4 linked regions of the Homo sapiens genome follow. The protein of the gene in region 1 interacts with the protein of each later gene in a pairwise test. Each region holds a gene or a part of one and is shown in the gene's direction. Other genes may lie near its edges. The genes, in order: ZNF138, ZBTB8A, MAPK9 and LHX6.

Region 1 (7,026 bases):
TTAAAAAACCATTTGAACAACTCCGACATGGAAATTAAAGCTTGCGCCAGTGACTGCAAGCTAAGGCTAATATTGAGCCTACAAAGGGAAGGGAGGTTATTAAAGGCCCAGTTAGTTCTTTCTAGGAAGCCTCCCCTGCGGATGTCGGAGCCTGCTCACCCCAGCCATGGAAGAACCTTTATACTGAGAGAAGCTACAGAGCCCTGGAAAACTGGAGACCCACAGGCAGATGCAGTAAACATTAAGATGGAAGGGGATTGGGAGGGTCATACTCAGGATGAAGTTGTTATTGTTTTGAGGCAGTTTCTAGACTTTGTAAAATAAAACAAAATTAGGTTTATTTTTTAAAAAATTCTAAAATACTGCAACAGAAGGAAGTACCAACTATATAATCTTTAAGGATTGCAAAGTTTAGGCAGATAAAGGCTTTCTTAGGGAGGAGCAAAAAAGATTAGAAGGTGAGAGGGGAATGGCAAATGGAGGGTGTATAAATCAGATTTTATTTTTTATTTTTTAATTAAATTATTTTTTTGAGACAGAGTCTTACTTTGTTGCCCAGGCTGGAGTGCAGTGGCTGGATATCACCTCACTGCAACCTCTGCCTCCTGGGTTCAAGTGACTGTCATGCCACAGCCTCCTGAGAAGCTGGGATTACAGCCGCCCACCACCATGCCGGGCTAATTTTTGTATTTTTACTAGAAATGGGGTTTTGCCATATTGGCCAGGGTGGTCTCAAACTCCTGACCTCAGGTGATCTGCTCTTCTCAGCCTCTCAAAGTGCTGGGATTACAGGCGTGAGCCACCACGCTCAGCCCAAATCAGATTTTAGATTAGAAAATGTTTTACCCTGAAGTCAGCAAGTTTTTAGGAGAAACATAAAATGGGGTTGTATGTTGGCTCAGACTGAGTAGCTCAAAGTTCAGGAGCTGTGGGAAGGAGATAAACTTAACTATATTTTGATTAAGAAGTATTTTATTTGACCGCTGAAGAAAAATTCGGCTATTTTTTTAAATACAAAAAAGAAAATCTTATACATAGTGCTAGCTAGTTATTCCAGTACCATTTTATTAAATAGGGAATTCTGGCCGGGCATGGTGGCTTACGCCTGTAATCCCAGCTCTTTGGGAGGCCAAGGCGGGTGGATCACCTGAGGTCGGGAGTTTGAGACCAGCCTGACCAACATGGAGAAACCCTACAAAAAAAATAGTCGGACATGGTGGCCCATGCCTGTAATCCCAGCTACTCAGGAGGCTGAGACAGGAGAAACGCTTGAACCTGGAGGCGGAGGTTGTGGTGAGCCGAGATTGAGCCATTGCACTCCAGCCTGGGCAACAAGAGTGAAACTCCGACTCAAAAAAAAAAAAAAAAGGAAATTCTTCCTACATTGATCTTGTCAGCTTTTTTGATGATCAGATGGTCAGATGGTTGTAGATGTGTGGCATTATTTCTTGGCTCTATTCTGTTGCATTGTTCTATGAGCCTTTTTTTTTTTTTTTTAATCACTACCATGCTGCTTTGGTTACAGCCTTATAGAATAGTTTCAAGTTGGATAATGTAATGCCCAGCTTTGTTCTTTTTGCTTAGAATTGCCTTGGCTATTCAGGCTCTTTGTTGGTTTCATATGAATTTTAAAATAGTTTTTTTAGTTCTGTTAAGAATGTTTTTGGTAGCTTGATAAGAATGACATTAGATCTGTAAATTTCTTAGGGCAGTATGGCCATTTTAATGATATTGATCTTTTCTTTTCTTTTTTTTTTGAGATAGAGTTTTGCTCTTGTTGCCCAGGCTGGAGTGCAATGGCACGATCTCGGCTCACCGCAACCTCTGCCTCTGGATTCAAGTGATTTCTCCTGCCGCAGCCTCCTGAGTAGCTGGGATTACAGACATGCGCCACCACGCCCAGCTGATTTTATATTTTTAGTAAAGACGGGGTTTCTCCATGTTCAGGCTGGTCTTGAATTCCCAACCTCAGGTGATCTGCCCGCCTCTGCCTCCCAAAGTGCTGGGATTACAGGCTGAGTCATGCCACCCAGCTGATGTTGATCTTTTCTATCCATGAGCATAAAGTAATTTTCAATATATTTGTGTCATATCTGACTTATTTAAGCAGTGTTTTGTAATTCTTGTAGAGATCTTTCACTTGCCTGATCAGCTGTATTCCTGGATGTTTTATTATTTTTGTGGCAATTGTGAATGGGATTGTGTTTTTATTTTTGTTTGTTTATTTGTTTTTTGAGATGGAGTTTCGCTCTTGTTGCCCAGGCTGGAGTGCAATGGTGCAATCTTGGCTCACTGCAACCTCGACCTCCCGGGTTCAAACGATTCTCCTGCCTTAGCCTGCCAAGTAGCTGGGATTACAGGCCTGTGCCACCACGCCTGGCTAATTTTTTGTTTAGGAGAGACGGGGTTTCACCATGTTAGTCAGGCTGGTCTTGAACTCCTGACCTCAGGTGTTAGGCGATCCACCCACCTCGGCCTCCCAAAGTGCTGGGATTTCAGGTGTGAGCCACCAGGCCCAGCCTGGGATTATGTTTTTGATTTGGCTTTTGGCTTGGATGCTGCTGATGTACAGGGATCCTACTAATTTTTGTACATTTATTTTGTATTCTGAAATTTTGCTTCACTTCTTCAGTTTAAAGAACGTTTCTGTGGAGACAGAAAAGAGAAGAACTTTTCTGTGGGTTCTCTAGATATAGAATTATGTTGTCTGTGAACAGGGATAGTTTGACTTTTTCTCTTCTATTGAATACCTTTTATTTTAGTCTCTTGCCTGATTAACTGTGGTGTGGACTACCAATTCTGTGTTGAATAGGAGTGGTGAGAGAAGGCATCCTTGTCTTGTGCCAGTTTTCATGGAGAAATGCTTCCAGTTTGTCCATTCAGTACGTTGGTTGTGGGTTTGTCTTGGATAACTTGTTATTTTGAAATATGTACCTTCAATGCCTAGTTTGTTGAAGGTTTTTAACATGAAAGATGTTAAAATTTTTTTGAAAGCTCCTGCATCTATTAAGATAATCTTGCAGTTTTTATCTTTATTTTTGTTAATGTAACGAATCACATTTATTAATTTGTGTATGTTGAACCAACCTCATATCCCAGAGAAAAAGCCTACTTGATCATAACTGATTAACTTTTTGGTGTGCTGCTGAATTTAATTTGCCAGTATTTTATTGAAGATTTTTGCATATCAATGGTCCTCAAGGATATTTGCATAAAGTTTTCTTTTTATATCTGTGTCAGGTTTTGGTGTCTGAATGATGCTGTTCTTACCTAATGAGTTGAAGGAGGGAGTGTCTTCTCAATTTTTTGGAATAGTTTTAGAAAGAATGGTACCAGCTCTTTTTTTTATACATCTTGTAGAATTTAGCTGTGGATGTCTCTGGTCCTGGGCTTTTTTTGGTTGCTAGGCTATTTATTACTAATTCAGTTCTGTAGTTTGTTATTGTTCTATTCAGAGATTCAATTTCTTTTTTGTTCAGTCCTGGGAGGATGTATTTTTCAGGAATGTACTATTTCTTTTAGATTTTCTAGTTTGTGTGCATGGAAGTGTTCATAGTAGACTTCAATAGTTATTTGTATTTTTCTGGGGTCAGTGGTAATGTCCCTTTTGTCATTTCTAATTGTATTTATTTGAATCTTCATTAATCTTGCTAGTGGGTTATTTAGCTTATTAATTTTTTTAATAGATTTAACTCCTGGATTTCTTGATCTGTTGCATAGTTTTTTATGTCTAAATCTCCTTCAGTACAGCTCTTGTTATTTTTTGCCTTCTGCTAGCTTAGGGGTTTGTTTCCCCTTGCTTCTCTCCTTATTTTATTCATAATGTTAGGTTGTTAAATTGAGATCTTTTTAACTTTTTTATGGGGGCATTTAGTGCTATAAATTTTTCTGTTAGCACTGCATTAGCTGTGTTGCAGAGATTCTGATATGCTGTACTTTGTTCTCATTTGTTTCAAAGAGCTTTTTGATTTTGCCTTAATATTATTATATACCCAAAAGTTATTCAGGTACAGGTTGTTTAATTTCCATGTACTTGTATGGTTTCAAGTGGTTTTCCTTGTATTGAATTATATTTTAATCAATCTGTGGTCTGAGTATGTGGTTGGTATAATTTTGGGATGTTTGAAATTGCTGAGGATTGTTTTATTTTGGATTGCGTGGTCAATTTTAGAGTATGTGCCACATGGTGCTGAGAAGAATATATATTATGTTGTTTTTAGATGGAGAGTTCTGTAGATTTCTAGTAGGGCTATTTGGTTAAGTATTGAGTTTAGTTCTTTTTTAATTTGCTGCCTCAATAATGTGTCTAATAGTGTCTGTGGGGTGTTGTAGTCTCCCACTATTGTATCAGAATCTAAGTCTCTTCATAAATCTCTAAGAACTTGCCTTATTCATGTGCACCTGTGAAAGGAAATTAAATCTTGGGACCCAAAACTCATTAAGCCAAACAGAAAAGTTAAGCTGGGAACGGGGTCACACAAACCTGCCTTCCTCTTTTGGCTCTGTTGACGAAGAGTCAAACTCTGTAAAATATTTTAAGAGATTTATTCTGAGCCAAATATGAGTGACCATGGCCTGTGACACAGCCCTCGGGAGGTCCTGTGATCAGGCCAAGGTGGTCGGGTTACAGCTTGGTTTTATATATTTTAGGGAGACATGAGACATCAATGAAATACATTTAAGAAATACATGGATTTGTCCGAAAGGCAGAACAACTCAAAGTGGCGGCTTCCGGGCTATAGGCAAATTTACACATTTTCCGGTTGACAGTTGGTTGAGTATATCTGAAGACCTCGGATCAATAGAAAGAAAATGTTCAGGTTAAGATAAAGGATTGTGGAGACCAAGTTTTATTGTGGAGAGGAATCTCAGATAGCAGACTTCAGAGACAGCAGGTTGTAAAAATGTTTCTTCTTACTGGACTTAAAAAGGTGCCTGGCTCTTAGTTGATTGATTATCTCCTGGATCTGGAATGTAAGGAAGGAAAACAAAAGAGGAAAGGGGATTGTCTATAGAATGTACATTTTTCCCACAAGAGACTTTTGCAGGGCAATTTCAAGGCATGGCAAGAAAATATATTTTGGTGTTAAATATTTTGATTTTTTTTTTCTTGTCTCATAATGTTACGCCAGAGTCAGATTGGAAAGTAAGTCACGATCTATAGGGTCAAATAAAACCCATCTGATGAGAATTTATGGTTTGTAGGGCATGACCCCTTACAAACAATTAGATAGAAATTTGGGCAAGATAAAAAATTCAGAGCTTAGTCCTCAGTTCCTAAATAAGATGGCTACAAGAAGAAAAGCTACATACCTCCCCCATCTTTTGCCCACAAGAAAATTTCTAGTGAGCCGCAAGATCTTTACCCTAAGGTGTTTCTGTTAAAATGTAAACTGATAGCTTATCTTTACAGATACAGTCACCCCCCTGCCCAACAGACACAAATGCATATCTGATTGTTCCCCTGCCTCGTTTTGTCTTGTCTTATGTTAAAAAAAAAAAATGCAGATTCACTGAGCCAGACAATGGCATGAGTGACTATTTTTCCCTACCCCCCTCTTACATAACAATTGTGTACTTCTCAATATCTCACTGTAGGAGAAAATATAAATTAGAAATAAGAGGGTTTATTCTCCTGCATGAAAATAAGGGAGGATATTTTGTTAATTTATTTTTCTTTAAAGCACTTAAATTATATGTAGATTTTTTTCTTTGTTGTTTGAAAGATATGTAAATCATATTAACAGCTAAATCTTTTGTCATTGTTTTTGACTCAGGATTGTCTTTATCTAGGACCTCAGATTCATTGCTTTGTTTTTGCTTTGGCAAAGGTTTTTTTTTTTTTTTTTTCATTTAATCTGTATCTTTTAAGGTAGACACAGATTTGTTTAGATTAAAGCTCATTTTAAGAGCACACAAAAGTTGAGCACAAAGATAGGATTACATTTAGCAATACAGAATGATGAAGACTAAAAGATACCAAGTAAGCTCCTTTGACAGAAAACAGATTATCCAAGGTAATTATTTAATATTTGCAGGCTGAAGTACTTACATTGCAAAAGCGAGGTTCAGTGTATGAACTGAACAGTGGAGTCTGTGGTTGTGCTTTGGTTTCTGCTTATTACTTCAGAACAATTAGCATAGTTATGTGTAGTGTTTGTAGACAAACTGCATTCATATAAATTAAGCAGTATTTTATACAGTAGTGTGAATATAACACCACAATATTTGCTTTGAATGAATCCCTTAGTAATTTCAATATTTTTATATTCATACATTTGGAATATAAAGTGTTTTAATTGGATTATGGTTACAGACAATTTTTAAAAATCCTATGTACATTATAAATAGTACATTAAAATTATACTAAGTGTATCTAATCAAAAAAGTTACTATCAAATTATTACAGTAGATATTAGTATAACATGGTTACTAATTTATCCAATAGAGATAATTATAGGTAAGCATAACTTCAGTGTCTTTCGTTTCACTAAATTGGAATGCTGCTGTTACAGGAAAAATAAACAAGGGTGATGTGGCCACCCAAAAACCGTAATAGCTCTTCACTTACCCATGATGCAAGCTCAAATATATTCCACTATATTAACAAAGTCATATTCCAATTCTTCATTAAAAAGTTCTGGTGGGGATAAGGGAGGAGACCACCCCTCATACTGTCTCATGCCCAATTTCTGCCTCCAAAGAAAGAAGTAAAAACTAAAAGGCAGAAATGAAATCCACAGGCAGACAGCCCGGCGCCACACCGTGGGCCTGGTAGTTAAAGATTGACCCCTGACCTAATTGGCTATGTTATCTATAGATCACAGACATTGTATAGAAAAGCACTGTGAAAATCCCTGTCCTGTTCTGTTCCGTTCTAATTACCGGTGCATGCAGCCCCCAGTCATGTACCCCCTGCTTGCTCAATTGATCACAGCCTTCTCATGTGGACCCCCTTGGAGTTGTGAGCCCTTAAAAGGGACAGGAATTGCTTACTCGGGGAGCTCAGTTGTTTGGAGTTGTGAG
Region 2 (7,236 bases), on another chromosome or scaffold:
TTGCCTGTAATAATTCTAAAACATGACCCCAAATTCTGTGACATTCTTTCCATTAGAGATAGCAACTATGTCCCCCTTCTGCTTGAATCTTAGTAGGCTGGGACAACTTCCATAGATAGGCAGAAAAAGTCATGCAGCTCCCTCCTACCTGTCTTGGACACACTCTGTCAGAACCCAGCTGCCATGATGCAGGAAGCCCCAGCCCCACAGAGAGGTCATGGGTAGGTGCTCTAGATGACAAATCTCAGCTGAGCCAACCTTCAAGTGATCCCAGCCCAGGTGCCAAACCTTTAAGCGAAGAAACCTGCAGATGATTCCAGTTCCCAGTAGTTCAAGTTACCCCCAGTCATTTAAGTCTTCCCAGCTAAGGCTCCAGACAACAGGAAAAAAAAAAACAAGCCACCCCTGCTGTGACCTGACCCACAGAATCCAGGAGCATAATAAAATAGCTTCAGTTTTCTACTACTAAGTAAGTTTGGTTTGGTTTATTACACAGTAAAAATAACTGGAACATCCCCTTTATAAACCAGTTTCTGAGAGGAATTGTCTGTTCTCATCATCTCTATTCCTTCATCCTCCACTTATTCCTCTAATCTGGAAATCCACCCCATCTTTTAAGCCTAATCATGTTCTCTAAAGTCAATGATCTCCAACTTGTTAAATGTAATGGACATTTTCTTTTAGATTTGTTCTCTTAGCAATATTTAGCACTACTGCCCAATTCTTCCTTTTTTCCTTATTTTTATAGCTGGGTTCTCGCTCTGTCACCCAGGCTGGAGTAGTAGTGATGCCATCATGGCTCACTGCAGCCTAAAGCTCTTGGACTCAAGCGATCTTCCCACCTCAGCCTCCTAAGTAGCTAAGCCTACAGGCACAAACAACCAAGCCCAGCTAATTTATTTTATTTTTTTTGTAGAGATCGGGTCTCATTATGTTGCCCAGGCTAGTCTGGAACTCCTGGCCTTAAGCCAACCTCCTGCCTCAGCCTCCCAAAGTGCTGGCATTACAGGTATGAGCCGCTGTGTCTGGACTCTTCTTTTAGTTTTTATGCCATCACATTATCCCAGGTCTCTTCCTTCCTCTCCAGTCTTCTCACACTCATTTGCAATTTCAGCTTCCTCTAACCACCCACTAGATGAGGAAGTAGCTCAATGTTTGGTCCTAAGCCTTCTTTGCTTCTCATTTTATATTCTCTCTCTATGCATATCCATGGTTTTAATTCCCATCCCACCTATATGACTTTGATGATGAAATTTCTTTTTTCTTTTCTTTTTTTTTTTTTTTTCAGACGGAGTCTCACTCTGTTGCCCAGGCCGGAGTACAGTGGCATGATCTCAGCTCTCTGCAACCTCCACCTCCTGGGTTCAAGTAGGAATTTTTTTTTAATTTAAAAATTTTAAAAATCCTGCCCTTCTAGTCCTCTCTCTCTCAGTGAACAGAACCACCATCTGTCCAGTTCCAAAAGGCTGGGAGTTGTCTTTGACTCCTCCTTCTCCCTCATTTCTCAGAGTCAAACTATTATCTCTAATATTTAACTCTCCACCTCACTTGATCTCCCCACTTCTATCTACCTCCACTCTAGTTCAAGATTCTACCATCTCTTAGCTGGGCCACTGTGATCCACTCTTCCTTCCCTCTAATTTATCTTCCACAGTCATCTTTTCAAAATGCTTACCTCATCATAGCACACACACCCCATGCAGCTTAAAACACATTAATGGCTCCCAAAGTTCTTAACCTGGCCCGACAAGGCCCTGATGGTCTGACCCCTGCCTCCCTCTCCCATCTTATCTCTTGTCTCTCTCCCTCACGTTGCACTCCAGTCTCATCAGCCTTTCAGGCTATATTCCCATCTACCAAGCACCATTTTGCTCCTTCTATCTGGAATGCTCCTGACCACTCACACGCTTGCCTGTTAATTCCTACTCCAGATTTCCAGTCAAGATAACCTCCTCAAGGAAGTCCTCCTTACACAAACCCTCTCCCTCATGAGACGGGTCCCCACTTCATCAATATTCTCATCACACGACATACCTTTCCTTCAGACTTATCCAATTTTCAAATTATACATTTATTTGATTACCATCTGTCTCCCCCACTAGACTGCAAATCCCATAAAAGCAGGGACTTGGTGAATTTTTTGCTCACCACTGCATTCCAAGAGCCTAGAGCAAAAACTTTACCCTTAGCAGGCACTGTTAAAATTGGAATGGGACCAGGTGCGGTAGCTCATGCCTGTAATCCCAGCACTTTGGGAGGCCAATGAGGCTGGATCACGAAGTCAGGAGTTCAAGACCAGCCTGGCAACCTGGTGAAACCCTGTCCCTACTAAAAATACAAAAATTAGCCAGGCGTGGTGGCGGGCACCTGTAATCCCAGCTACTCTGGAGGCTGAGGCAGAGAATTGCTTGAACCTGGGAGGCGGAGGTTGCAGTGAGCCGAGATTGCATCATTGCACTCCAGCCTGGGTGACAGAGCAAGACTCCGTCTCCAAAAAAAAAAAAAAAAAAAAAAAAAAAAAGGAATGGATTATCTTCCTCAAGATTTGAACTGAATAGGTGGAAACAGGGATGGGGGTTGGGTGGGGTGGGAGACAGAGTTTAAGAGACTAGCACTGGTTAATGGTGGAGCTCTAGCATACAGAAACGTGCTCCCAAAGCTAGGAGAATGAAGGTGAGGGACAAAACTCTCATTACCTCTTCCTTGCAACAAAGAGGTTATTTTTGTTTGTTGTTTTTGTTTTTGTTTTTGAAATGGAGTCTTGCTCCGTCACCCAGGCTGGAGTGCAGTGGCACGATCTTGGCTCACTGCAAACTCCACCTCCTGTGTTCAAGCCATTCTCCTGGTTCAGCTGCCCCAGTAGCTGGGATTACAGGCGCGCACCACCATGCCCAGCTAATTTTTGTATTTTAAGTAGAGATGGGGTTTCACCATGTTGGCCAGGCTGGTCTCAACCTCCTGACCTCGTGATCCGCCCACCTCGGCCTCCCAAAGTGCTGAGATTATAGGTGTGAGCCACCACACCCGGCCTCAACAAAGAGTTTATCACCAACCTGATGTGCTCTCTTGAGGAATATGTTTGTGGAACTCTTTTGCATGTTTTAATTAACTAAGGCTAAAATAAAACCTTTGGCTAAAACCATGTCCAGGTCTTTCTGGGGGAATTCTCAATGGGGGCGCTAGCAGAGTAATCTGAGTACATCCAACACACCAGACACCTAATGGTTTTCAAATATGTTTCTACTTACCTGTTCAGAAGGTGAGGAAATGCAACTAAATAGCAAAGCACCTCTGCAGTGACACAGAAGTGACATTGAGACAATTGTGAATATCTTGTATCCTCAAAATGCATAGCTAATTATTCCTGAAATCAAAGTTACAAACTGTCCAATATGAATGATTTTGAACAGGAGAGGAATCCATTAAAAGCTAAACGCAAGTTTTGATAATTTGAACCTTTTCCCTCCAGTTTTACTATAACACAGTACTTTTCAGTACCTGACCCCAGCATAAGGAACTAGAAAACTAATTTATAGAAGTAATGCTTCTACAGTAACAGTGAAAATCCATTGATTTACTATTTTAGCAAATGTATAACCTGATATCTGTACTCTAAATATTAGAGACGTAAATTTGTCAGAGGAAGCTTGGTGTACGATGAATGCTTGCATTGGAAAAGACGCAACTTGCTATTTTTACTAATTTTATATTTCTCTGGACTTAACTAAGAATTATGTTCTCTTATCTCAGCCTCTCTGGGTTTTCCTATTCAAATGAAATGCTTCTGACCTGTACAGGTTTAGAAAAGGTTATCCTCAACTAAAATAACTGCTTCAGTACAAGGGAAAATTCTGTGGAAATCTTTTGCATTTGACGTTGCTAAACTTAAGTACAATAATGTCACATGTACTTATACAGTAATTGTGGGCACGCCTAAGTCCCTCCCTCTTTCCTAAACCAAATCCCCAGATCCTAGAAATCCAGCCCTTCTGCCCTCCGGAGGCGCCTTTCCCAACGTAAAGTACAATTTTAAATTTCAGCTCCTGACTAAAATCATGATCCGCAGTCAACTGCTAGAGAATCTGGGCACCCCGGTGTCTCTGGAGCGTGCAGCGAGTGTGGGCAAGGGCAGGGGGAGTGGGCGAAGCTGCTGGTTGGTGCCTGAAATCTGTGCGTTGCCCCTTTAATTGTGTCCCCAGCCCTCGGGCGTTTCTGTCCAACGCCCACGTCAGCAAATACCTTTTGTTTCTCTCACGTTGGGGCTACTTGTTTTAGGGCGCAAAGGAACGGCCTCGAAAGGGGGTCCTTCCCCAGCCGAGAACCAGGAATCTTCCCTCGGCCCGCGCGCGCGACCGGCCGGTGCGCCGCGGCCCGCGGTAAGTGGCTGCACGCGGCGCCGGCGGAGGGCGGGCGGGCGTCGGGGCTGCCCGGGACCCGCCGCGAGCCTGGCCGCGGGCTCTGACGGCCCGGGCGGCGGCAGTGCTGGGATGCGGGCCCCGGGCGCGCCTCCCCCAGACGTCCCCGGGCCGGGAGCGCGGCGGGAGGCGCCCGGGAGGGGCTGCGGGACAATGGCCGCGCCGTCGCCGCCCGCGCCCGCCTCGCCGCCCGGCCCGGCCCGGGGAAAGGCGGGAAGGCGCGCGGAGCCTCCTGGAGGCGGCGGCGGGAAGGCGGCGGGGACGGCGCCGGGCGTGTCTGGAGCCGTCGGGCGCCGCGGACTCTGGAGGGGCTCGGGCTGCGCGGAGCAAAGACGGGCGGCCGCCGCGGGGGCGCGCGGGGAGGGCAGGGCAGGGCCGGGGCCGGAGTCTCTGCGGGCGCGGCCAGGGGCGCTGCCGGGGAACCTGGCTCCCAGGGCAGTAGCCCGAGTTTCTCGGTGCAGCCTCCATCCTTGGTTTTATGTCAAGATGCGACATCTGGGCTTAGAACCGAGGGCGAACTCACCGCGCCTAACCAATGTTGAGCTCCCAACTATTTGCTTCTGGACGGAACCTTACATGCTCATCTCTACCCATGCGGACCGCCTCTTTTGTGAGTTAGTCAGCGGCTTGTTCCCTTCCCCTTCAGATGCGCTTATGTATCCCCGATTGTTCCAATGGCCCTACTCCACATCATTCTAAGACGCGTTTGGAAGCGGTAGATTCACACACACCTGGTGGGCTTCTAACCACACACGTCAATATCACCTCTATGCTTGATAAACCTTTATAGTTGCACAACTTTAAATGGAGTGCTTTCACCTATATGAATTATTTCACTTAATTTCACATAAAACAACCACCTAGTCAGGCTGACGGTAATTCCACTTTGCAGATGAGGGAACACGTATGAAGCATGGCGTTTCACCTCTAGGCTAGGGTGACCATAGCCGCCCAGGGCCTCCTGTTCCCGCCCTGCCTTCCCTCCTAAGGCACCTCCAGAGGAGTCTTTAGAAGGGCCAGTCTTAACACAGCGCTTCCCTGCTCTAAAAACCTTAACTGATCTTTTTCAGGAAAGCCTCCAAAATCCTCAACAAGCTTCTGCTCCAGTCTTATCTCCTCCATGCCTCAGGTATGGATGCGTTTGTAGACTGGAGCAAGAGCCCCTCACTGATAAGCAGGGATCAGATGTCTTTATTCCTGGGAACCTCTCTGGCCACACAAGTGGCAACTGGGAAGTGAGAATCTGGCTTAGGGCCCTTGATCAAATGGGTGTCTGGGTGGATTGTGCTCTAAAATGTCAGCAGGAGGCATAATGAGTAGGGACTCCAGGAAGGAGGCCACACCACTAACCCTTATCTCCTAGCCCTGAAATCACCAGCTTCGCTGTTGATAATGATTTGGGGCCATCAAAAACTTTGTAAGATAGAGTAATTTAATTCATCGTATGTCATTTAAATCTAATTTTTAGATAAAACTGTGTAATAGACTTAACTCAGTGACACAATGATATGTTAATCATATTTAAAGATTTGATGTGTTTGATTCCCTTGAATGAAGCTTTTGCCACTTTTCTGCTCAAAATTGGTCAGTGGCTCCCCATCTTACGCAGTTTAAAAGCCAAAAGCTCCATAATAGTCTATGCAGCCTTACAAGCACCTGGTCTCACCATGTCCTACTTCTCTCATGATCTGCTTTCCCTTTCTGACTCCATATCCCATTGCTTCCCCCATGCCTCCTTGCCTGCTCACCTCAGGGCCTTTGCACTTGCCGTTCCCTTTGCCTGAAATGCTCTTCCCCCAGACACCCACATGACTCTCTTACTTCCTTTGGACTTTACCCAAATGCCATCTTCTCAATGAGGCTTTCCTCAACTATAGTTTTGATTCTCTTAAGTGTTTTTATTAATTCTAAATCTTTTCTGTCTCAGGCCATTTGTGCAGCTATAAAAATACTTTGGGACTGGGTAATTATAAAGAACAAATTTATTTCTCACACTTCTGGAGGCTGAGAAGTTTAGGCAGTTTGGTGTCTAGTGAGGGCTGCTCTTTGCTTCCAAGATGGCACCGTGTTGCTGCATCCTCTGGATGGGAGGACTGCTGTGTCCTCACGTGGCAGAAGGAATGGAAGGGCAGAAGAGGCTAAACTCACTCCCTCAGGTGCTTTTATAAGGGCACTAATTCCATCCATGAGGGCAGAGTCTTCGTGGCCCAATCACCTCCTAAAGATGATACCGTTGCAATCGGGATGAAGTTTCAACATGAATTTTGGAGGGGACACAAATGTTCAAACCATAGCTCTTAAATGTTTTTAATACAGACGATCACTGACTTACAATGGCTTGACTTACGATTTTTTGACTTTACAGTGCGTTTAATGGGGTATTAAATGCATTTTAAACTTACAATGTTTTCAACTTAAAATAGGTTTATTGGAATGTAACCCCATCGTCAGTTGAAGAGCATCTGTACTTAATTCTAAATCTTCCAAAGCTGAAGGATCATTTATCCATCAAGGAATACAGTTACCACTCTAGTTAGCTGAAGTTCTTTATGACTCAGGAACGTTTGCTAAGCAGGCTAACAAGATTAGTTTTGCTGACCCTGGTGGGACACATTAAATTTTAGATTAATGACTATATATCTTAAAAGAGTTGATCTTCCCAGCCGAGTGTGGTGGCTCACACCTATAATTCCAACACTTTGGGAGGCCAAGGCCTCGGGGGTCGGGGGGGCGGGGTGTGGATCACGAGGTCAGGAGTTCGAGACCAGCCTGGACAAGAAGGTGAAACCCCATCTTCTTTACTAAAAATACAAAAATTAGC
Region 3 (7,026 bases), on another chromosome or scaffold:
TTTAGTTTATTCCGTTAATTTAACTAGGAAAGATGCTATCTAAATTTAATAGGCTAGTGTGCTTGTGTGCTTTAATTAAGTACTATTTTGTTAGTTACTGGTATGCATTGAAATATTTTCCCCCAAAGTAAGAACTGAAGCACATTACAAAGGACCTAAGTGAAAGAGATTAAAATGAAAATTTTGTGAGGAACAATATGTTAAACTTTCTTGTTTGTTACTGTGCTGACATTTTGTAGAATTTTTTTTAAAAATCTGTCTAGTGGGTTATTTTGTGACACACTGGGGAAGTCAAAATAAATGTAAAATGAAAGAGATAAACTCATACTGTAGTCAGCAAGTCATGTTAGAGATACAGCAGAAAGGAGAATAACTACTCTAATTGTTACAATAGCCTTCTTTCCTCATTTGCCATTCTTCCATCCTCAGTATTTTTTACCCTAACATGGTTCTTCACATCTTCCCTTTTTCATTTGTGTTTTAACCACTTAGTTTTTCATTAGTCTTTGACTTTGTTTTCGTTATGAAAGTTTAAATTGGTCTCCATCCTTGGGCAGATTGATGGTTGCTTTTAAGGAAATCAAGCTCCATAGTCAGTGTTTTGTATGTATCTTAGGAAAATAATTTCAGATTTTAATAATTTTATCAAAGTGGTCTCCTTATAAATTCTTCACAGTGCAAACTTAAAGTGAAAATATTTTTATTTCTCTCATTTTATTTACCTTTCTTTACATTTTCTATATCATAGATTATATAATATGTCAAGTTATTTTATTTGTTCTACTAAATTTTCTAGCAGTTTCCATAGCCTCATCTCAGATTCACTTGTTGCAACCTATAAATAAGGACGTCTTTATTTTGCAAGTAAACTTAATTAAAAAGGGAAAAGTTGAAAAATTAAAAGACTAATAATTTAGAAATATCTACTTAATGTTCAGTTTGTCTCAATTCTTACTCATTTTGTGCCATTCCTTGTTTTATTACAAAATGTTTTCTTCAAAAAGTACAAAAATGAAAAATGTGAGTACTTTTTGGTGCATTTTAGTAAGTAAAATTAAAATTCCTGCTATACATATGAACATTAATGTCAGTAATTAATAGTGTTATATATAAGGTTACCTAATGTTATTCCCAAAAGCCACACAGAGTTTAACATCATTTTCTAAAGAAAATTTTGCCAACTCTTTCAAATATTAGATTGAAATTTGGGAGATAGAAAAAAGTTGCAGAAATCAGACTGAGGGTCTCAGAGATTTGCTTTAATTTGCGACCCAGGGTAGAAAAGGAACTCCTGTCCCTGCGGTGGTCTATGAGAAAGAGAAAGCTTTAGCCCGGCCACCTCGGGCCCCAGCTCAGACTCCTCCCCTTGGCAGCCATGCATCCTTGAGAAATTTAGGGCCTCTCTGAGCCTTGGTTTCCCCTTCTGTAAAATAGACCTGTGGTCTGCCTGCAGCTTCACGAGAGTTAGACAACAGGGTCCACTGGGCTTGTCGGAATTATTGTTCCCCTTCCCCCGTCCCTCTCATCTGTCCCCCATCCCTCCCACCTGTAGGATGCTGGGGTGGAGTCCTCTCGGGGAATCTGTGGGTCTCCTCTCACAACTGGTTTAATTTCTAGTCCTTTATCATTAACCCAGCAGATATTTCTCTCACCTGCCCATTTCTGGGTGCCTAGTCTGACTGAGATGCAAAGAGGCTCCTCCCAGCTGCTGAATTGAGGGTGGATCGTCAAGGGCAGGGCAGAGCAGGAGAACAGAGCAGAGGCTGCCATCATCCAGAGGAGAGGTGGAGGCCCCCAGCAGGCGGGTAGGGGTGTGGCCGGGGAGATGGGCTTGTACTCTGCTTTGAAGCTGGACCCTTCAAGGAGCCTTGCTAGGGTTTGGAGATGTCTGTTAGACAGTGGAATTTAGGGGCAAGGTCTGGGATAGAGAGATCAAAGTGGGTGTCATCCGTCTGTCGGTAGCCTTGAAGCCTAGGACTGGTAGCGAGCACTTGCAGGGGAGGAAGAGACCAGGACCCGGGACTTAGCCCCCTTGAGGTGGAGGGACAAAGGGAATAGGGAAGGAAATGGAGAAGGCACTCACGTGACCCCTCCTCCTAGAGTGTGGTGACTGAGGGAGGCTCATTCACATGAGGAGATGAGGACGGGGGATTGGCCCCTGGGCCTTGTGATGGCTGCTGGCAGCCATGATGGGCACAGCATTTATGGAGTGGAGGGAAGAAAGCCTGATGGGAGTATGTTTGAGAGAAAATGAGAGGCTGGGAATTAGAGACACAAGTGTAGACAGCTCTTTTTTCTTTCCTTTTTTTTTTTTTTTTTTCCTTTGAGACAGAGTCTCACTCCATTGCCCAGGCTGGAGGGCAGCGATGCGATCTCAGCTCACTGCAACCTCTACCTCCTGGGTTCAAGCGATTCTTCTGCCTCAGCCTCCCGAGTAGCTGGGATTACAGGCGCCCGCCACCACGCCTGGCTAATTTTTGTATTTTTAGTAGGGCCAGGGTTTCACCGTCTTGGCCAGGCTGGTCTTGAACACCTGACCTTGTGATCCACCTGCCTCGGCCTCCCAAAGTGCCGGGATTACAGGTGTGAGCCACTGAGCCCGACCGACAGCTCTTTATGGAAGTTTTTGCTGCAAATAGGAATAAGAAATAAAGCGATAGGTAGGGCCAAAGGAAAGCAGCTACTGTGTTAACATAGGAGAAAACACCATCATTTACCAACGTGGTGGAATGTATTGGTAGAGTGCAAAATGTCGATGATGTTGGAGAAGGAAGAGTTGAGGGAGCTTGTCCTTGAGTCAGGGGGGTTAGGGTCTAGAGCTGAGCAGGCTTAGTGTAGCCGGGAGCCCAGATGGTTGCTGTGTGGCAAATGGCACACAGATGCTGGGTGGGTGCATCCTGGGAAGTCTGTGGGAGTGAGCAGGCAGAAGAGGTATCAAAAGTATAAGGTGGGCTGGGCGCAGTGGCTCACACCTATAATCCCAGCACTTTGGGAGGCCGAGGCAGGCAGATCACTTGAGGCCAGGAATTCCAGACCAGCCTGGCCAACATGGCGAAACCCCATCTCTACTAAAAATAACAAAAATTAGCCGACCGTTATGGCAGGTGCCTGTAGTCCCAGCTACTTGGGAGGCTGAGGCACGAGAATTACTTGAGCCCGGGAGGTGGAGGTTGCAGTCAGCCGAGATCATGCCACTGCACTCCAGCCTGGGCGACAGAGCGAGACTCTGTCTTTATTTATATATGTATATATGGCAGAAGGAAAAGGTGTGAGACAGTTTTCACATTTTGGCTAAATAGGTAAATAAAATGTGGGCATAATTCTGATTTGACAATATGTATGAACCAGGAGTAGGAAGGAGAATTTGCTAGTGAATTGAATGCCAGAAACACATTTCCTGAGCGGGTCTTTTGGAAGTATAACATTTTGGAAGAACTGAGTTCATGTACCAGTTCCCTAGGTTATTTCATGGTGATGTAAGTTCATTTTTCTAAGACATGCCTCAGTGAGCACTTTTTTAAGCTGCTGTTGATGCTATTTTTTTCTCACTTGCATTCTCTTGTATAGCGAGTACAGTTTCAGTGTCACTTTCCCACATGTAATCCTAATTATCCCAAGCCTAACAAGCACCCTGTGGAATAGGCAAAGCTGGTAATGTCTGCATTGAACAAATAAGGAAACAGACCCCAAGGAAGCCTGACTTTCCTGACACACTGAGTGTTTAATGCAGAGTTGAGTCTGAAACCCAGGTCACGCACTTTGAAAGGAAATAAAATGCATTACCTAGGGATCGCAGTGATGGTTGGGAAGAGTCAGTTCCAAGTAAAATAGAGCATCATTTGAAAGCTGTCGCTGGGCTCAGTCTAAGCCCAGTTGCTTGGTTCCCAGCTGTAAACTGAGGAGGTCAGATAGGTCTCTCCACAGGTCCCTTGAGATCCTCTGTTCTTTAGAGAGCTGTGAATGAATCTAAGGTAGCATTAGTATGAAAACTGATTTCAATTTGCTTATGTAATGTTTATCTAATTTCGTGTTTAATCATTTTTGCTATAGGTATTCTTAGTTATAAGATAAACTTTATTTTGAACTAGAGTGGGAAGGTGTGTAGACTTCATTGTGTTGATTTAATAAACTGTGATCATAGTTTATGAAGATGCAGAGTGTGAGAGTTTTAAAAAATAGTGTAACTTGGAAACCCAAACCTTATTTGAATATTATTTCAAAATTCCGCTGCTGATCCAGTGGGGTGGCCTAGTCGATAGGTTTAAATATTATTCAAGTGATGCTGCCGCATGTACTGTGAATACAAGGTACTTCAGTTGTATTTTCCTCAAGAAACTCCTTAGATATTGATCAGTGGAATAAAGTTATTGAGCAGCTGGGAACACCATCAGCAGAGTTCATGAAGAAACTTCAGCCAACTGTGAGGAATTATGTCGAAAACAGACCAAAGTATCCTGGAATCAAATTTGAAGAACTCTTTCCAGATTGGATATTCCCATCAGAATCTGAGCGAGACAAAATAAAAAGTAAGATATCCTTTTTTTCTTATACTTGTGTTTTGTAATTCAGGTGGTGCTTTCACTCTTTCATGTTTGTATTCTAAAAACCTGTGTTTTGGGAGAGAAAGTCATTTTAGGCCTGAAGTCTGAGGTACGAAGGCACTGAGGAGAGAAAGCTTAAAGGTCTAGAAGCTTTATCCTCTATAAGACGGCTTAATTGAAGCCTTTGGCCAAAATAAAAATAATCAAATCAGTCTGAAAGAATCTTATGTTACAGTTACAGCAACTGGAATTCAAAAAGTTTTCAGGTAAGAAGAACACTTAATGCAGATTCTAGAGTCAGAAGCGATGTGACAGTTGTTCGATGAAAAAGGTCCTTCCTCCCCACCTTCTCCTGCACCCTTTACTACAGTGTGATTGTTTAAGGAAAAAGAAAAGATTTGATTCTGTCCGCATGAAGGTAAACTGTGCCTTAATCAGAAAAGCCCCAGTCTTTGCTTATTCAGGTTGTGAACTTTAATTGACAAAACCTAGGTGAGCCTTATATTTAACTAAGTTATTGAACTTGTTTTTCTTTTTCCTAAATACCAATCTGTAGATTAAAAAAAAAAGTGTAAGTTGCCAGCACTGTATACAGCTAGGCCAGCCAGAAGCATCTGTGAGTGTTTTATCCTGTGGGAATGTGAGATTGTTGTGTGGTTTGAAAAGTCTGTTCTAATTTCATTTCGATGTGACTTAGAGAAAAATACTCCCCCGTGCCTCATGCCCACACTCTGGGCAGTGCCACCCGCAGCTCGGCAATTGCCACCTTCCTTGCTGTGGTTTCCCAGCCTTGGGCCCTGCCCAGACATTGGTCTGAGGCTGCCTGGTGCTCTTCCCCACCACCCTGGGAGCCCAGGTTTCTCTTCCCCTTGCAGATCCAGAGGCGTAAAACTACATTTGGAAACCTGGTTTGTCATGAAAGTGGACATTTGACTTTTTCTTAAAAATGTTTGGGTTATGGCTGGGTGCGGCGGCTCACGCCTGTAATCCCAGCACTTTGGGAGGCTGAGGCAGGCGGATCACGAGGTCAAGAGATCGAGACCATCCTGCCTAACACAGTGAAACCCTGTCTCTACTAAAAAAATACAAAAAATTATCCGGGCATGGTGGCAGACGCCTGTAGTCCCAGCTGCTTGGGAGGCTGAGGTAGGAGAATGGCGTGAACCCGGGAGGTGGAACTTGCAGTGAGCCAAGATTGCGCCACTGCATTGGGCGACAGAGCGAGACTCCGTCTCCGAAAAAAAAAAAAAAAATTTTGGGTTATATTCATCTTGAACCTATCAAACATTTCTCAAAATTAATATATCTTTGTTCTATCTGTGTTGTCATATTTAGTTCTTTATTGTATGATTCTGTTTGTTTCATATTAACAGCATTAATTTAATATTTGTTGTCACCCTAGCAAGTCAAGCCAGAGATCTGTTATCAAAAATGTTAGTGATTGATCCTGACAAGCGGATCTCTGTAGACGAAGCTCTGCGTCACCCATACATCACTGTTTGGTATGACCCCGCCGAAGCAGAAGCCGTGAGTATCTGTTTTGAAAAGATTTATATAGAGAGGCCAGGCTTATATTTCCTTGGATCTTGTCTGTCCGTCCAGAGTGGCTACATATGGGTAGCAAGTTCTCCATTTGGGGGCTCCCAGTTACAGAAAGGCCAAGTGTTGTCTGAGACCTGGGTCGCTTGCTCTTTTGCTGCTGGAGCCCCAGCTCAGAGTACCTCGGGAATGAACTTCCGCTTTGGTGCTACCAGTCTCCATTTTGCAAATGCTGCTGTGAGCTCATAGTTTATTAAGCATCTATTCTGTGCCATTGGCTTTGGTTACATCCTCTTGTTTAGGCCACTTAACCAGAGAGGCTGAGCAACTTGCTGAAAAATCACACGTCTGTTTATCCTTCCCTAAAGGCATTGTAGCTCCTGGTTCCCCCGCTGGAGGAGCTCCACTCTGAGTTTGGTGCTCACGTGCGTGTTTCTGTGTCAGCACTGGTGTGAGTGAGCTTTAGCTGTGAGGGAAATCACTGCGTAGTGGCAGGCTTCCTTCATGCCATGAGTGAAATACATGTTTATGTCATGGCCTGTGGTTTTGCCATCAGTTTAAACATTGTTTTATATAAAAAGAATCCAATTTATAAGCAGACTTTTATAACAGTCCATTTATGAGTTGGACATTGGATTTGGGAGTTCTCCCATGAAGAAAATGTAAAATTTGTTCTAAGAAACAACAGTACCTTCCATAGCTGCCAGCACAGTGCCTTGTCCATAATGGGTCTCTGGGAAACAGCCTGTGATGATGAGTTTCTAATGACATCTGGGCAGATGTCTGCGTTTTGAGGTCAGGTGATTATTAAGAGGAACATAATAACTCTTCTTTGGTTAACTTTTTCATAATTATTTTGATTCTAAAGTTGATATAATATCACATGACAAATCTTTATTAAACCACGTGTTGAATTAAACTAAATCCATATCATAAATAGACTAGA
Region 4 (7,026 bases), on another chromosome or scaffold:
ACTATCTGCTCAATAGGAGCGACATTTTCCCCCTTTCTTTTCTAAACAATAACTATATTCAGGCTGCACAGAGCCTGTTAAAGGTGCCAAGGATCAGGGGCGCTATAAGTACCAGGGGTCTGAGCTACCTGCTAATACTTGGTGTAGAGTCAATAAGAAATCTAGATGATCCCTTTGGACTTGGGGCCATGACCTCCAGAGTCCCTGCCAGGACTCTGTCCATACACTCTGTTGACCAAACTTAGATCTGTCTTTGCTGCTTAGAGAAGAGGCTGAGGTGCCCTCTCCTCTTACCCTTGTGGTGGAACTCAGCTTGGGGAAGAAGAGGTTGGGGGTGTGTGCACCTGCACCTCCTGCTGCATGACTGACTGAGAGTCACCACAGCAGTTTGCTCTATGGTAAACTACAGTCATGGAGTTGTGAATTTTCTGAAGCCTTAAGCTGGGAAGCTAATGAAAGTGTTAGAACCAGACCCCAGAAAAATGAGTTTTTCTGTAGAGTTTGCTCTGCGGTTAACTAAAGTCACAGAATACTGAGTTTCCTGGAGGCTTCGAGCTTGGAATCTGATAAAAGCTTTGGAACCAGACCCCAGAAAAATGCAGATGTACATACATTTTCCAAGTAATCTGAAGTTGTATATGGACTCCTTGAACACCCCAGGTGAAGAACTCCCAATTTAATATAACTCCTTTATTCTACAAATGGGAGAACTGTGGCTCAGAAGGGCACAGTGAATTGTCCCGGTTTATATATCAGTTGTAAGTGTCTCTACAATGCCCTTTCCCTGTGACCAAAGAGAATGAAGCCTAAAGAAGAGACCAGCAATGGACTTCTCCGCTGTAGTGATAAACAGGCTGAAGCATGAGAAATTTGGATCCGACCCAAAGGTGGACTTTCCCCAACAGTTTTAGATGTTGGAATATGGTATAGAAATTCATTCAGCACATACTTAAGAGTACCTACTAAATGCCATGCCTCACTCTAGGTGCTGGAAATCCACAAAGATCTAGAATCTAGAAAACATACAAAAAATTCCTGCCCTCGTGGAGCTTTGCATTCTAGTTGGCAAAGACAGATAATATCAAATAAATAATAAAAATATGCAGTAAGTCAGGCTGGGCGTGGTGGCTCACACCTGTAATCCCAGCACTTTGGGAGGCCGAGGTGGGCAGATCACTTGAGGTCAGGAGTTCAGGACCAGCCTGGCCAATATGGTGAAACCCCCTCTATACCAAAAAATACAAAAATTAGCTGGGCATGATGGTACATGCCAGTAGTCCCAGCTACTCAGGAGGCTAAGGTGGGAGAATCACTTGAACCCAGGAGGCAGAGGTTGTACTGAGCAGAGATGATGCCGCTGCCCTCTAGCCTGGGTGACAGAGTGAGACCCTGTCTCAAACAAAAATGCAGTTAAGTCAGATGATAAGTGCTAAGGAAATAAAGCCGGGAGGAAGACAGGGAGGGTAGGAGATAGGTGTTGGTGTTGGTTGCAGTCGTAAAGAGAGAGGTGACATACGAGTACAGAGTCCTCTAAGAGGCATGGGTAAAGTCATGGTGATACCTAAGAGATATGAACTTACTGAGGGAGGGTCTGAATAGATGGGGCACAGCCTTGCTTGCAGGGCCTGAATAGGCAGGGTACAGACTTGCTTGCATGCGCATGAATATGAAAACACATATTTATTTAGGAGTGTTTATCAGTGAGCTAGATGGTTATACCTCACTCTCACGTAGCTCTTTATAAAGAGCATCACAATTGGCCGGGCACGGTGGCTCATGCCTGTAATCCCAGCACTTTGGGAGGCCGAGGCGGGCAGATCATGAGGTCAGGAGATCAAGACCGTCCTGGCTAACACGGTGAAACCCCATGAGGTCAGATCAAGACCATCCTGGCTAACACGGTGAAACCCCGTCTCTGCTAAAATACAAAAAATTAGCTGGGCGTGGTGGTGGGCACCTGTAGTCCCAGCTACTTGGGAGGCTGAGGCAGGAGAATGGCCTGAACCTGGGAGGCAGAGCTTGCAGTGAGCCAAGATCGTGCCACTGCACTCCAGCCTGGGCGACAAGGTGAGACTCCGTCTCAAAAAAAAAAAAAGATCATCACAACCAACCCTACTGAAACCTTGCCCAGGGCTACCCAGGAGGTAAGTGGCAGAGATGAAACTGGTTTCAGGGCTCCAGTCTGTAGAGAGCACGGGGCAGGTGGGATCCTGTGTGCAGCCTGGGGGATGAGCTCCAAGGCATCCTCTCGTCCACAGGTCAGGTACAGTGCGGGCAGGTGCACTGCCGGCTGCCTTACACCGCACCCCCCGTCCACCTCAAAGCCGATATGGATGGGCCGCTCTCCAACCGGGGTGAGAAGGTAAATGGAGCCAGGTTGGGTCTGGTGGGTCAGAGCCACCCTGCTGGGGATGGGTTTCTGGCAGCATCCTCTGTTAACCATTTGGTACCATGCTGCGCTGTGGCAGACCCTGTCTGCCCGGCCTGCTGAGACCCCCACCGCACCCCCACAGCAGTCACTGGAGCGGTGGTTGCTAGTGTGTTCTGTGTGCATGGCCACTCCGAAGGCCTCCTTGCAGCTCCCCACTGGCAGTTTGCCCTGCTCTGTCTTAGATTTGTGAATTTCCTTTACTCAAGCTTTAAGTTCCAGGGAGGGCTTATATCACTCATCACCCCACTTCCCATCATCTCACTGGTTTCTCCTTTTCATTCTTGTCTGTTGGGAGTGAATATCCTGAGCTGATGGGGTTCAGGGATAGCTGGCCAGCCAGTGACCTTGGTCAACTGGCAGGGCCTCCTCTGTGGAGCCAGGATTTCTGGTTGTCTCAGGCTTTAGGACTGCACTTCTAAAAGGGTGCTTAGCTGTCCCCATTCCAGGGCTTCAAGGTATTATTTCTGAAGCAATGCAACCCTTTGTTTAAACTTGTCCATAGTGCAGATGAAGGTGGATGGAGCTGCTCTGAAACCATGGAGAGAGGAGGAGACTTACCTCCCTCCCAGCTCCAAGACACCTCACAGTTAGCCTCGAAAGCCAGTGCTGTCAGACAACCCTTCATTTTAGAAATGGGAACGTTGAGGCCCAGATAGCTCAAAGTCAGAGATTGGATGAGAACCTTGCTTTTTTTTTTTTTTTTTTTTTTTAGACAGAGTTTCACTCTTATCGCCCAGGCTGGAGTGCAATGGCGCAATCTCGGCTCACTGCAACCTCCACCTCCTGGGTTCAGGTGATTCTCCTGCCTCAGCCTCCCGAAGTAGCTGGGATTACAGGCGCCTACCACCATGCCCAGCTAATTTTTTTGTATTTTTAGTAGAGATGGGGTTTCGCCACGTAGGCCAGGCTGGTCTTGAACTGCTGACCTCAGGTGATCCACCCGCCTCAGCCTCCCAAAGTGCTGGGATTACAGGCGTGAGCCACCGTGCCCGGCCGAACCTTACATTTTTTAATTCACTGACTTGTTTATTTGGAGACATTTCCTATGTCTTGTCTGTGCCCAGCATCCATGAATCTGTTGCTAGGAGTGGAAACAAGTAAAGTGTGGTCCCTACCCTTGAGGAGGCCAGAGTCTGGAGGGGGAGGCAGATCCCAACAGTTACAATACAGTGTGACAGGGGAAGCCATGGGAGCTGGGGAGGGGGAAGGGGGCAAAGGAGAGAGGCAGGGAAGACTTCCCAGAAGAGGCAACCTCTAAGGCCAGGCCTGAAAGCTGAGGCATCAGGGAAGGCATGAGACACCAGAGCTCTCAGGGAACCCTGAGCCATTCAGCATTGTTGGCAGGCATGTCTGGGAGGATGAGAGGAGGAAAGCGAGAGCCTTGAGGCTGCCAGGTGGAAGAGTCTGTATTTTATGCTGCGGCAGTGTGGGGTCCTGGAGGGCCTGCTGCAGAAACATCACTGTAGCAGTCTTCAGAGACTGCTGGGTTGGAGGACACCCAGTAGGAAGCAGGGATCCCTGGAGGTCAGTGGGTGTGGCAGTCCCTCGGAGGGAGAGGGTCAGAGCATTAGGGCTGGAGTCAGGAGCCCTCCAGTTCAGCAGATCCCGGTCTTGGTGTGCTCGGAATCACCTGGGCAGCTTGTAAATATACAGAGATTCCTAAGCCTCGCTCTCAGAGAGTCTGTTGGGGTGGGATATAGGGATCTGCGAGTGTAATACTCAGCCTGTGTGATTCTAACGGGCAGCCGGGGTGGGGACAGCTCCTTTAGGATGGTACCTCTGGCTCAGCCTCCTGATTGAGCTCAGTACACCTAGTATGTACTGAGCTCTCTGTGCCGGGCACCACAGGAGAATGTGTATGGTGTGGAGGTACAGACAGCCCTGGACAGATACATTTGTAAATAAATGGTAGTGCCTAACGTAAAATCCTGCAGAATCTGTAGTGAGTGAGCATGCCCCAGGAACACCATCGCCGCTGAGACTGTCACATCCATAGGAAGAGCTGCCGTTTGCTGAGCTCCTTCTGTTCAAGGCAGCTACTTCTCACATGGCATCTGGTTCACACCTCCCAGCCACTTTGTGGACATAGAGATGGCCTTCTCATTGTAAAGAGATAAACAGATTCCGAGAGGTGACATGACTTGTCCAGGGATGCAGCGAGTCTGTCGGACTCTGAAGTCTGCGCGGCTCAGTAATCACTTCCTTTTGTGCAGCACTTCATTGTGTACACAGCCCTCTCTCCGACCTCATCCTTCATAGTCTCCCTGGGAGGGTGATTGCGATGACCTCCATTTCACACTTGCAGAAACGGAGGCTCAGACAGAGCAGTGCTCATCCAGAATCACAATGTGAGCATGGGCAGAACTGGCCGGGATCCTAGAGCCACCTGCCTCAGAGCTGTCCCTTCCTGTGGGAGGGGATTCATCCTATTAGACCTGGCTCTGGGACTGCAGAAGTGAGCTGACATGATCCCTGCCCTCAGGGAGCTTGTGGCTTAGCACAGGGTGTGGGCAGTTACATTGCAGGGGAATGGGCAGCTGGAGTAGGCGAGAAACTTGACCTTAGAGGACCCAGAAGAGGAGGCAGTGAGCTCTAGGGGAGAGACAGGGGACAAGAAGAAGGGTGTTCCACATCAAGAGAACCGCATGTGCAAAGGCCCAGAGGCATGGAGGAGCTTGGGCCGGAGGGGACCCTGGGGGACGTTCAGTGTGGCTGAGGTCCAGGGAAGTGGGGAGAGCCGACAGGGGCCACAGAACAAAGGATCATGGAAAGAGGGTCTTGGACATTATGTGGAGGGCAGGGATGGGCCCTGGAGGTACAGAGGGCTGGGCTCAGTGCTTGGAGAGGAGCCTTTGCCTCCTGGTTGCTCAGCTAAGCTTGTGGTTCTGTCTCATTCAGCCTGGGGGATGAGCCATGCTGGGGGCTGTCAGATTTGGCTATAGACAGTTTCTGGCTTCTGGATTTGGCTGCTGAGCCAGAGTTTTCCCTTGCTGGGCTGTGTCCCCAACTTTGCACCCAGAAAGTCTGCATTAAAGTGTCTCTCCCTCCTTCATGACCTTCTGTCCTCTCACTGTCAGGCCTTTCCGCCAGCTCCTAGGGACTTTTCTTGTCCATAACTCTCAAATTCCTGGGGCTTGGTGGGCGGCAGGGTGTGGTATGTGTGTGGCCAGCACAGGATTGTCTGGGCTTTCTTCCAAGTCCTTCCAGGCCTGAGCCTGCCTAGCTGTGAGGAGACTCAGTGTCCCCATGGGGCTGGCCCCTGAACCCACTCATCTAGACCAGCACTGGCCTGGCCAGGAGAACAGTGCTCTGAGCACTCAGGGGAGCATCCCCTGCCTCCACCGCATCGTCATTTGGCCACACACACCTGTGAGGTTCCAGAGCCACATTTCTTCCTGGTTGTGTCCCCTGATCCCACAAATCCAACACTTGGAAAGTTCTTAGAAATCAGGGCTAAGCTGTCATTGATCAGTGGAGGAGACTGAGACCCATGGAGGGGAAGGGTCCTACCAGGGTCGCCACTCTTGAGAGAGCTTTTCCTAATAAGGGCTAAAAGCCAGGCATTCTGGAGGCCAAAGTGGAGCAGTGGCCAGGGTGGGGAAGGAATGCCCACCCTGGCCACTCTGGAGTTAGGCCAGCTCGGAATCCCAGCTCTGCCACCTCCCCTGTGAGATCTGGGAATGCAATTAGTTTCTCTGAGCTGCGGTTTCTACATCTGCAAACTGGGGATAATAATAGTTCCCACTCCGTAGGGTTGCTGCAGAGAATAAATGCATAATGTGTGTAAGGAGCCCAGCACAGAGCCTGGTGCACAGAAAATGCCCCCAGGTGTTGGTTATGATCATGATCACTATTATGGTGATCATCATCATTGCTTTCCTCCATCACCTCCTTGTGATAACCAGTTCTGGGCAAGTAACATTCCTGATCAGAAAAGGGAACAGCCATGTAGTCATGCCCACCAGATGCCCCTCACACTTTACTGTGAAATGACACATTGCCATTGACCAGCCAGCCAGTGATCCTTGACCTGAACTTCAGGGAACTGGCTGTGTCAGCAGCAGTGAGATGTCAACCAAGTGCTAGAGGTGGGAGTGGGAGGGGGAAAGGGACAGACAGTCCTGATCTCCCACTGTGTATCGGGCACCCAGTGTGTCTGAGCCACGCACTTCTAGGCTTCGTGCATGTGAAGATTAAGCGCATGTGAAGTGCTTAGCCCGTGGCCCTGTGGGTAATAAGCAGTCAGCCACTATGGTCACGGTGACCTTGGAAAGGTAGAGGCAATGTGCTTTGGTAGGGAGAGCTTGCTGTGAGCCAGGCCTGGCCTCCAGTGCCAGGTCCTCCTCCTCGCTGTGTGCCCACGAGCTCACTCGCTTCCACCTCTTTGAGCCTGAGTGCCCTCCTTGTAAAACAGAACGTTGGAACTCCCTCACGGGGCTATGGTGCGGCTTCCGTGAAATCAGGCACAGAAGGTGCAGGGTGAAATGCCCAGAAGGCTTTTGCTGCTGCTGTTGTATCTCATTGAATCTCTCTGATTCTCAGAGAGAGATTTTGTCATCCTTGTTTTAAAGATGAGGAAACAGGCTCAGAGAGGT

Evidence for each region.
Region 2: the proteins of ZNF138 (region 1) and ZBTB8A interact in binary tests that used the Homo sapiens proteins (3 or more experiments, as listed by UniProt).
Region 3: the proteins of ZNF138 (region 1) and MAPK9 interact in binary tests that used the Homo sapiens proteins (3 or more experiments, as listed by UniProt).
Region 4: the proteins of ZNF138 (region 1) and LHX6 interact in binary tests that used the Homo sapiens proteins (3 or more experiments, as listed by UniProt).

What each region holds. Positions count from the first base shown.
Region 1 is NC_000007.14:64,797,427-64,804,452, forward strand, and holds part of ZNF138 (zinc finger protein 138), read left to right. Parts: intron 1-1,764; coding exon of another isoform or gene 1,765-1,972; intron 1,973-7,026. UniProt on the Homo sapiens protein: May be involved in transcriptional regulation as a repressor.
Region 2 is NC_000001.11:32,535,197-32,542,432, forward strand, and holds the start of ZBTB8A (zinc finger and BTB domain-containing protein 8A), read left to right. Parts: upstream 1-4,230; 5' UTR 4,231-4,376; intron 4,377-6,379; exon of another isoform or gene 6,380-6,633; intron 6,634-7,236. UniProt on the Homo sapiens protein: May be involved in transcriptional regulation.
Region 3 is NC_000005.10:180,240,073-180,247,098, reverse strand, and holds part of MAPK9 (mitogen-activated protein kinase 9), read left to right. Parts: exon of another isoform or gene 1-1,079; intron 1,080-4,343; coding exon 4,344-4,526; intron 4,527-5,943; coding exon 5,944-6,068; intron 6,069-7,026. UniProt on the Homo sapiens protein: Serine/threonine-protein kinase involved in various processes such as cell proliferation, differentiation, migration, transformation and programmed cell death.
Region 4 is NC_000009.12:122,204,950-122,211,975, reverse strand, and holds part of LHX6 (LIM/homeobox protein Lhx6), read left to right. Parts: exon of another isoform or gene 1-1,115; intron 1,116-2,258; coding exon 2,259-2,362; intron 2,363-7,026. UniProt on the Homo sapiens protein: Probable transcription factor required for the expression of a subset of genes involved in interneurons migration and development.